3 linked regions of the Homo sapiens genome follow. The protein of the gene in region 3 purifies or fractionates together with the protein of the main gene of each other region. This does not show direct contact. Each region holds a gene or a part of one and is shown on either strand. Other genes may lie near its edges.

What was found.
Region 1: the proteins of HSPG2 (region 3) and LOXL2 purify together in Homo sapiens (co-immunoprecipitation; one study listed by IntAct). This does not show direct contact.
Region 2: the proteins of HSPG2 (region 3) and AKIRIN2 purify together in Homo sapiens (co-immunoprecipitation; one large-scale study listed by IntAct). This does not show direct contact.

The regions. Positions count from the first base shown.
Region 1 is NC_000008.11:23,394,028-23,397,678, forward strand, and holds part of LOXL2 (lysyl oxidase homolog 2 precursor), read right to left. Parts: intron 1-3,651. UniProt on the Homo sapiens protein: Mediates the post-translational oxidative deamination of lysine residues on target proteins leading to the formation of deaminated lysine (allysine).
Region 2 is NC_000006.12:87,695,606-87,699,256, forward strand, and holds part of AKIRIN2 (akirin-2), read right to left. Parts: intron 1-3,651. UniProt on the Homo sapiens protein: Molecular adapter that acts as a bridge between a variety of multiprotein complexes, and which is involved in embryonic development, immunity, myogenesis and brain development.
Region 3 is NC_000001.11:21,832,745-21,836,395, forward strand, and holds part of HSPG2 (basement membrane-specific heparan sulfate proteoglycan core protein isoform b precursor), read right to left. Parts: intron 2,894-3,651; coding exon 2,796-2,893; intron 2,202-2,795; coding exon 1,935-2,201; intron 1,182-1,934; coding exon 1,072-1,181; intron 871-1,071; coding exon 723-870; intron 641-722; coding exon 524-640; intron 1-523. UniProt on the Homo sapiens protein: Integral component of basement membranes. Component of the glomerular basement membrane (GBM), responsible for the fixed negative electrostatic membrane charge, and which provides a barrier which is both size- and charge-selective.

The sequences.
Region 1 (3,651 bases), on a different chromosome or scaffold from region 3:
GTAAATCATATATCTGCAATGGTCTAGAATTCAGAATATGTAAAAATTGTTTATAATTTAACAATAAAAAGACAAGAAACCCAGGCTAGGCACGGTGGCTCATGCCTGTAATCCTAGCACTTTGGGAGGCCGAGGTGGGCGGATCACCTGAGGTCAGGAGTTCAAGACCAGCCTGGCCAACATGGTGAAACCTTGTCTCTACTAAAGATACAAAAATTAGTCAGATACGGTAGCGCGTGCCTGTAGTCCCAGCTACTCGGGAGGCTGAGGCAGGAGAATCGCTTGAACTCGGGAGGTGGAGGTTGCAATGAGCCGAGATCGTGCCACTGCACTATAGCCTAGGTGACAGAGTGAGACTCTGTCTCAGAGAAAAAAAAAAAAAAAAAAAGACAACCAACCCAATTAAAAATGGGCAAAAACTTAAATAGACACTTCCCCAAAGAAGATATACAAATGGCTTACAAGCACATAAAAAGGTGTGATACATCACTCGTCATCAAGCAAACACAAAGTACCATGAGATACCACTTCATACCCATAAAGGTGGCTGGAATTTTCTTAAGGGGAAAATAAAAAGTGTCCCCAAAGATGTGGAGAAATTAGAATCCTCATACGTTGCTAGTGGAAATGTAAAATACTACAGCCACTGTGAAAAACAATTTGGTGATTCCTCAAAAAGCTAAACATAGAATTACTATATGACCCAGCAACCCCCCTCCTAAGTATATACCCCCCCAAAATTGAAACACATTGAAACAGGTGTTCAAACAAAACTTTTACATGAATGTTCATAGCAGTATTATTCATAATACTCAAAGGGTGGAAACAACCCAAATGTCTGTCAACTATAAATGGATTAACAAAATACGGTATGCCCATACAATAGAATATTATTCGGCCATAAAAAGTAACGAGATACTGACACATGGTGAGGCTTAAAAACATTAGGGGAGCACCGTGGCTCCCGCCTGTAATCCCAGCACTTTGGGAGGCCAAGGTGGGCGGATCACGAGGTCAAGAGATCGAGACCATCCTGGCCAACATGGTGAAACCCCGTCTCTACTAAAAATACAAAAATTAGCTGGGTATTGTGGCGCACGCCTGTAGTTCCAGCTACTTGGGAGGATGAGGCAGGAGAATCGCTTGAACCTGGGAGACGGAGGTTGCAGTGAGCCGAGATGGCGCCACTGCACTCCAGCCTGGTGACAGAGCAAGATTCCGTCTCAAAACAAAACAAAACAAAGAAACAACAACAAAAAAACCATTAAGGGAAGTGAAAAAAGCCAGACCAAAAAAAAAAAAAAAAAACCACATATTATATGATTCTATTTACACAAATTATACAAAATTGGCAATATAGAGACAGAAACTAGATTAGTGGCTGTTTAAGGCTGGGAGGATAGGCGGTGGTGGCTAACGGATATGGACTTCTCTTTGTGTTGATGAAAACATTTTAAAGTTGACTGGGGTGATATTTGCACATATCTGTGAATATACTGAAATCCATTGACTTGTACATTTTAATGGGTGAATTGGATGATATGCAAATTATATCTCAATAAAGTCTTTTAAAAAAGAATCTACTTCGATGACACTTGAAAGTGTCATGCAGGCAGCCTGGGGGTGGTTGCCAGGCATCAAAATATTACTCTTGACTGAAGACTTTATTATTATTATTTTATTATTTTTGGAGGCAGAGTCTTACTCTGTCGCCCAGGCTGGAGCACAGTGGCACAATCCTGGCTCACCGTAACCTCCGCCTCAGCCTCCTGAGTAGCTGGGATTACAGGCGTGCACCACCATGACTGGCTAATTTTTGTAATTTTAGTAGAGATGGGGTTTTACCCTGTTGCCCAGGCTGGTCTCGAACTCCCGAGCTCAGGCAATCCCCCAACCTTGGCCTCCCAGAGTACTAGAATTACAGGTGTGAGCCACTGTGCCTGGCCTTATTTCTAAATACACACATAAACTCTTAGAGTCACTGATAAATCGTTCTACTTAAGAAGAGAGAGAAGTCTGGGCACGGTGGCTTACACCTGTAATTCCAGCACTTTGGGAGGCTGCGGCAGGATCCTGAGGTCGGGAGTTCGGGAGCAGCCTGACCAACATGGAGAAACCCTGTCTCTACTAAAAATACAAAATTAGCAGGGTGTGGTGGCACATGCCTGTAATCCCAGCTACTCGGGAGGCTGAGGCAAGAGAATCGCTTGAACCCAGGAGGTGGAGGTTGCGGTCAGCCAAATCGTGCCATTGCATTACAGCCTGGACAACAAGAGCAAAACTCAGTCTCAAAAACAAACAAACAAACAAACAAACAAACAAACAAAAAAACGAGAGAGAGATCAGGTGGGAAGGGAAGGAGGGAGGAAGGAAATGAGGAGGGCAGGCAGGATACGGCCAAAGAATGGGCTTAGACTTGTGCTCCAGCAGAAGCTGCCAGAAAGGCAGGAGTTCTCCAGGTGGATTTGAACCCTACAATGGCCAAGGGGCAGCCTGGAATGATCCTAGTGGTGATACCCTAACACAGCTACAATTGCAAATCTCAACAGGTTGTACTCCCATCCCTAGACGTTTTAAGGAAAGGAGCTACTTAAATCTCATAACTAATCTGTGATTATAAACTGACTCTTTCAAATCACAGATTATTAACTGTGTTCTTTCAAATATCTCTTCCAAACCCCCTCATGGTAGAGAAAATCAATATCCAGTCCCAAGATCTTGAGGTGTAATTGAAGCAGCCATGTTTGGGCATGAAACGTATTTGAAATCTCCTGCTTTGCCTTTAAATTCATGCATTCTTGCTAATGTTCTATTCTTGATGTAGTAGCAAGGGCATGTTCACTTTGTAAAAGTTCATCCATAACAGGCATTTGTACACCAATGTTCACAGCAGCATTATTCCCAGTCACCAAAAGGTGGAAACAACTCACATGTCCACCAGTGGAGGAGGAGATAAACAAATGTGGTCTATCCATACAGTGGGATATTATTCAGGCTCAACAAGGAAGGAAATTCTGACACAGGTTACAACGTGAAAAAACCTGGAAGCCATGCTAAGTAAAATGAGCCAGACACGAAAAGACAAATATAATATATTCCACTTATATGAAGTACCTAGTTCAGTCATAGTCACAGAGACAGAAAGTAGAATGGGGGCTGCCAGGGATTGGTCGGAGGGGGAGAGTGGAGTTAGTGTTCAATGGGTACAGAGTTTCTGTTTTGGAAGATGCAAAAGTACCAGAGATGGCTGATGGTGATGGTAGCACAGCAGTGTCAACACACTTAACGCCACTGCACTGTACACTTGAAAATAGTTAAGATGGTGAGTTTTATGTTACGTATATTTTACCACAATAAACACAAAAGCAACCCAAAAAGCCTATGTGGGTATATACTTAGGATCATGTGATTTTACCTAGATATGCTATTCTTGGGGTGGGTGAAATCATCTTTAGAAATATGCTTTTCCGGCCAGGCACAGTGGCTCACGCCTGTAATCCCAGCACTTTGGGAGGCCCAGGCGGGTGGATCACGAGGTCAGGAGATCGAGACCATCCTGGCTAACACGGTGAAACCCTGTATCTACTAAAAATAGAAAACATTAGCTGGGTATGGTGGCGGGCGCCTGTGGTCCCAGCTACTCAGGAGGCT
Region 2 (3,651 bases), on a different chromosome or scaffold from region 3:
ACAGAGACTACAAATTGCTGGTTAACTAATTCAGTGATAGGTACTTGAAAATACCTACTCCCACTCCTAATACCATTATCTAGTTTCATGAACCAACTATTCAAGAGGCCCAAACTTAACCCATGCTATTACTTCACATTCTTCTTTTATAAAGAGAAAAATCTCTTTTCAAATAGGAAAGATACTCACAACTGGGCACTTCCACTGAAGCTTTTATTCTCAATCTTTCAAAACGAAAGCTTTCTATCACTGTCTTTCTAGATCTATCAAAACACTTAGCAGAAAAAACCTGCCGGGCACAGTGGCTCAAATCTGTAATCCCAGCACTTTGGGAGGCTGAAGCGGGCAGATTGCTTGAGCCCCAGGAGTTTGAAACCAGCCTGGGCAACATGGTGAAACCCCATCTCTACAAAAAAATACAAAAATTAGCTGGGCATGGTGGCACATGCCTGTATCTCCAGGTACTTGAGAGGCTGAGGCAGGGGGATCATTTGAGCCCAGGAGGCAGATTGCAGTGAGCCGAGATTGTGCTGCTGCACTCCAGCCTGGGACAGAGCAAGACTGTCTCAGAAAACAAAAACAAAACAAAGACCCGATTAGTATGTACTACATTCTTTTTCCAATAAAGCCATTAAAAAACTGAAGAAATTTATATTATTCTCCTTTACATCTCAGGTTATGTCTCCGTGGCAACCATAGTGAATAGTACCTTCCACACCTAAAGAGGGGCTAACCTCTAATCTAGCCATGTTTAGCCTATGTGTTGCTGTGCTCAAGTTAGGCTTTATTTTCCTACCTTAATAAAAAAGCCGGGAGCTGGGCGCAGTGGCTCACGTCTGTAATCCCAGCACTTTGGGAGGCTGAGACGGGCAGATCATGAGGCCAGAAGATCGAGACCATCCTGGCTAATACGGTGAAACCCCATCTCTACTAAAAATACAAAATATTAGCCAGGCATGGTGGCGGGCACCTGTAGTCCCAACTACTTGGTAGGCTGAGGCAGGAGAATGGCGTGAACCCGGGAGGCAGAGCTTGCAGTGAGCCGAGATTGTGCCACTGCACTCCAGCCTGGGGGACAGAGTGAGACTCCATCCAAAAAAAAAAAAAAAAAAGCCAGGGAGGCCAGGCGCGGTGGCTCACGCCTGTAATCCCAGCACTTTGGGAGGCTGAGGCAGGTGGATCATGAGGTGAGGAGTTCAAGACCAACCTGACCAACATGGTGAAACCCCATCTCTTCTAAAAATACAAAAATTAGCCGGGCGTGGTGGTGTGCGCCTGTAATCCCGGCTACTCAGGAGGCTGAGGCAGGAGAATCTCTTGAAACTAGGAGGTGGAGGTTGCAGTGAGCTGAGATTGCGCCACTGCACTCTAGCCTAGGCGACAGAGTGAGACTCCGTCTCAAAACAAACGAACAAAAAAAAAGCCGGCGGCACAGGCTCACACCTATAATCCCAGCACTGTGTGAGGCCAAGGCAGTTGGACCACCTGAAGTCAGGAGTTCAAGACCAGCCATGCCAACATGGTGAAACCCCATCTCTACTAAAAATACAAAACAAAATCAGCCAGGTGTGGTGGCGCACGCCTGTAATCCCAGCTACTCCAGAGGCTGAGGCTCGAGAATCGCTTGAACCCAGGAGATGGAGGTTGCAATGAGTTGAGATCATGCCACTGCACTCCAGCCTGAGTAAGACTTTGTCTCAAGAAAAAAAAAAAAAAAAAGCTCTATATTAGTAATGAATACAACTGCAGTTTTTAATGGCCATAAACTTACAGGATTCTTAAATGCATAAATCACAGAAATATGCAGTAACTGCAGCTACATACACAGTCCTAAATAGAATATCAGGTTTAAGACTCAAAGTACAAAGACCATTAAAAACATTTATTTGCCAAATCCAGTGAGAAACTAGGAGCAACTTAACAGCTGTCTAAATAACCACAAAATATTAAAAAATACTTCTGGCTCAATGTAAATGACATCTGAAGAGAGATGCTGCCTCCTCCAACAGACGTCTCATTTGTTCGCCTAGAACCATTTATATTTCATTGAAGCCAGCTGGTGTCTCCGTTTGCAGGCATGCATCAATGTCTGGTGAACAATCTATGTTCCTGTAAACCCTTCCCCATTCACAAGCTGCAGTTTCCATTTTTAATGGCAAGTTTCCAGCAAGTACAATGAGTTCTTACAAAGGAACTTAACTCTTCACAGAATTCAATTCCTAAGGCAGATTAATGGTACCAAGCCATAAACAATGTGAATTAATGTGCCTAACAAACTCACAAATACATTAACATTCACAGAAGGGTATCTTCAGACCATTCATTCACTACATAATGAAAACAATGTGCTGGATTTGATTGACGGTCTCTTATAATGTTGCAATATTTTGGTTTTATTAAAATTCTTTCTTGGGAATGTCATGACAATCTTTTGGCTAAATGGTAGTATTATGAGATGTTTCAAAAACCAATAGTAAAGCATACTTTGGTTTTCAACTAACTTACCAGGGTAAGTATTGATGCAGCTACTAGAGGCATTCATTTCACCAACGATATTCAATGCTTCTGCTCCCCCTCCCCTTACTTCCACTGATCACTTTTCCTTTTCCATACCCAGGGGTATTATAAACCTCACTGCTGACACCCCACATGAGGGTAAGCAAACTTTTTCTGTAAACACCAGAGAGCAAATATGGAGTTTTCGGGGCAATATACTGTGTGTGACAACTATTAAACTCTGCCATCGTCACCTGCAATGAACAATACTTAAAAAAAAAAAAAAAAGAATGAGCACAGCTGTGTTCCAATAAAATTTTATTTATGGACACTGAAATTTGAATTTCACATAATTCTCACGTGTCACAAAATAATTCTTTTGATTCTTTTCCAACCATTTAAAAAATGTAAAGAACATTCTTAGCTCTCAGGCTACACAAAAATATGGCTATACTTTGTCAACCATCCCTAGACCCTGAACAGCATTTCTGAATTAGTAACACTTAGGTGTCCTAAAAAACAGGTTTGGGATAGCTGTGTGTTAAGGAGTCCCTAAAAAATTCATAATGCCAATTAGCATAATAAAGGCTCTAAGCCTTGCGGTTAAGAAAGCAAGCTTAACTTCCGTCAGCTCAGCTAGTCCTTCCTTTTTCCTAGTATTAAGTTGCAACAGTTTGAAAAATATTTAAATAAGAATAGTCAAGTCAAACTTCCTGGGATGACTAAAATGATAGCTAAGGTTTAAAACAGACATCCAAGTTCCTGAAACTAATAAAGCCACAACATGACTTCAGCTATGCCATCAGAAACTGAAAGTATCTAGAGGAGAACAATGATAAAATAAAGTGTATACATGCTCTGAAAAAAAGTCACTTTAGTACTCTAGTTCTACATTAATTTGTATTATATTTGAACTCACAGATGTGAAAGGAAAACAAAGAGTTCCCACAAGTTTGCCAATCTCAATTTGGTAAGCCACTGTCTACTTCCAAACCTAACTACTCATTTTAGTTAATGACAGATGGGTATTTACTCCCATAAAGTTTAAGAATAATCGGTGTTAAAATAGGAAGCTAAAAATCAGGTGCATGAGAAAATTATTTCCAAGTTTACTAACATGAAAACTGGGAAGCTCTTTGATACCTGCACAACACT
Region 3 (3,651 bases):
GGGCCTTCTCACTATCTCAGGGCTGGTGCCCCAAACGCAAGGGCCTTACTGAGCGCCCCTAGAAAGAAACTGAATTTGCTTCACACACACTGGAGTCTCCCTCAAGGGGGAGAGGGAGGCAGAGACTCACCCGAGTAGAGAAGGAGGCCTGGACAGTGAAAGTCAGAGACCCGTAAGAGACGAGAGAAAGAGAGGAGGAAAGGGTGAGATGGAGGCAGAGGAGGGAGGAAGGAGCAGAGATGGGGAAAGGAAGCTGGGACAGGAGGACTGGGGGTGATGCCCCGGTGGCAGAGGAGCCACGAGGAGGCTGGAGATATCACAGAGGCAGGGATGGAGAAGCCGGGAGGCACAAGAGAAGGCACACCAGGGTGGAGGCCCAGAGGTCTGGGGGCTTCTGGAGAGGGAGGGCTGAGGGATTGGGGCAGGACTGAGGGGCAGCCAGGGCTCCTGCCATGATGGCAGTTACTCCACGAGGTCCCTCAACCCAGGCCAGCCCACCCCGCAAATTAACCCTCCTGCTCACCATCGGCTGAGTCGGGCCGGAAGGTGATCTTGATCTCGAACTTCCTGTAGGCATCCTTGATGGTGGGCAGCGGTAGGAAGGAGTAGGGGGTCTGCGTGAAGTAGGGCACCACCCGCTCTGCCAGCAGAGAGCACAGCTGAAGACCCTGCCAGTCAGGGAGTGGGCAGGGCACTGCCAATTCTTAGGGGTGGTGTCTTACCTGGCACCTGCAGGTGGGCAAAGGCTTTGACCTTGCCCTGGCGGTTAGTGGCGGTGCAGACGTAGGTACCTGCGTCCTGGGGTCGGACTGAGGGCAGCATCAGCATGTTGTTCTCCAGGCGGCTGTCAGGTGGCAGGCTGCCATCCAGCTGCAAATGCACTAGCACTGAGGGCCCTGGCCTTGGCCCACGGCTCCAGGGGCCCACCTCCCATCTGTGCCTCAGGCCCACCTTCCAACATTGAGCGTTTGCTCTTGGCCAAGCCTGTGCCACATCCTGGGGACACTGAGACGCTTCAGATCTGTTCCCAGCCCCCAAGTCATGCCCGCTGGTTCCCTCTCCAGCACTTACCTTGCTCCAGCTGATGTCAGGAGTGGGGTAGCCTGAGGCTATGCAGGGGAAGACAGCTGCAGAACCAGCAGGCACACGGACTTCTTGGGGCATTGAGATCTGGGGCAAGGCTGAGAGGCATGGAAGAGACATAGGCCATCAACATGACAGTCACAGATATGTGCCCAGCCTGCACCCTGATTCATTTCATCTTCACACCACCCCTTGAAGGAAGCCACTACATTCCATTTCACAGATGAGGAAATTATGGCTCAGAGGGGAAAAGCGGCTGTTTGCTCCTGGTCGGGCAGAGTCAGGGTTCAGGGCCAGATCCATTTCACTCCACAGCCTGAGACCTCTTCAACATGCCTGGGCAAAAAATTGTGCAGCCCTTTGGGGACCTGAGAAGTGCACACTAGGGGCAGTATAGGTAAGGAAGTTTGGAGGCAAGTCACAGGGCTTGGGGTAAAAAGGAATTGCCTTTAAAGAACACACAGTGTTTGTGTCTGCCCTGCATCTGTTGTCCTTGTTTTACTCTCTATTAGGTCTGTTTGTTGACTGGGTTATGTCTCTGCCCTCAGACTATGCTGCAGGTCTCTCCCAGCAGAGCAGGCACTCCCTGCAGATGAGGACAAGGTTTCTTTTTTCTTCTTGATGCTCTATGGCCTAGCTCTCTCCCTGTACATTCCAGGCTGCCCTGGGGGAATCTCACTTTTATCCCCTGCTGCTGCCACCTGTTATGAAACCTGCCCCTTAAACACACACAATGGAAAATGTCCCAAGTGAACAGAAAGGAAGAGCAGAGCGGGCAGGCAGAAGATGGCAGCAGGAGAAGCCCCTGCCCCACTCACTGTCCCCCAACAAAAGTCCCCACTGGCCTTCACCTTGCACAAGCAGCAGGACGTGGGATTGTGTGGTGCCAGCTGCGTTGGTGGCAGTGCAGCGATACTGTCCCGCATCAGCCAGCTCTACGTGGGCGATCCTGACGACACCTCCGCTCTGCACAATGCCTGGCCGCAGGTGCCCTCCAACTTTGCTCCATGTCACCTGAGGCTTGGGGTCACCCAGTGCCAGGCATTCGAACTCCACGGCGTGGCCAACCACCACGGTCTGCACAGAGGTCCGGATGTTGATGAGCACCGAGGGCAGGGCTGGGGAGGAGGGAGGCAGAGGTCCAGTGAGATCAGTCACTGCAGGCCTGGCCCGAGGGAGGCCATAGACTGCCCAAGGAAAGGTGAGCACTGAAGCTCCAGCATTCATTCACTCCTCATTCACTTTTTCATGCATTCACTCACAAACACACTCACTTGTCAGGTCTTATGCATTTACTCACTCACGTGTCCACTTCTTTTTTTTTTTTAGACAAAGGGTCTTGGTTGTATTCACAGGTGTGATCACGGCTCACCACAGCCTAGAATTCATGCGCTCAAGCAATGCTCCCAGCTTAGCCTCCTGAGTAGGTGGGACTACAGGTGCGTTCCACCATGCCCGGTTCACACTGATTCAATCTTCATCGGTTCATCTGAGCACTCACACACTCCATCCATATCCTTCTTCCCTCCCTTGAAATATGTATCAAGCCCCTTTTACTCTATGCTAGACACAAGCAAGGCAAAATGGAATAATTCTCTTTATTCTGACACATTTAGGGGGATTCCTAGGGAACAGGGTCTGGGCCTTGTGCCTCTCTGCCTTTCTCATCTCTGTTCCCTGCTCTTAGCAGAGGCCTGAAGCCACCCTCCTACCTTGGATAACCAGCTGGGCACTGGCCTGGGCCTTCCCCCAAGGTCCATGGGCCTGGCATATATACGTCCCTTGGCAGCTCTGGTCCAAGTTCTGGATTCTATAAAGAAAAAATAATAAGACATCAGGGAGTTGAAAACAACTGATAGAATGCTTTGCAATTGGGCTGGGCGTGGTGGCTCACGCCTGTAATCCCAGCACTTTGGGAGGCTGAGGCAGGCGCATCACTTGAGATCAGGAGCTTGAGACCAGCCTGGCCAACATGGTGAAACCCTGTTTCTACTAAACATACAAAAATTAGCCAGGCGTGGTGGCACACGCCTGTAATCCCAGATACTTGGGAGACTGAGGCACGAGAAACGCTTGAACCCGGGAGGCGGAGGTTGCAGTAAGCCGAGATTGCGCCACTGCACTCCAGCGTGGGTGACAGAGTAAGATTCCATCTCAAAAAAAAAAAAAAAAAAAAGAATGCTTTGCAATTGTGTGGGCATTAAAAACTGATGTAGAACAGCACGCAGTGTTGCATTCTAGTTTCCCAATAACCACTAGAGGTAGGCAGGCAGGTTGGGGGGCACCACACTCATTTTAGACAAAGACCTTATGGTCTAGGGCTCAAGATTACACAGTTATCAAGTAGCAGAGCTGAGATCTGGGGTCATTTGTGTATTTCTGGCCCCAGGGCCTGTTCTCTTTCCTCCGCTAATAATAAATATGAATGGGCCACTGTTTACTGAAGGCCTTCCAAGCACCAAGCACTGTGCAAGTGCTTCAGACAATCTCCTTTCAGTCTTTTTTCTTTTTGAGATGGAGTTTTGCTCTTGTCACCCAGGTTGGAGTGCAATGGTGCGATCTTGGCTC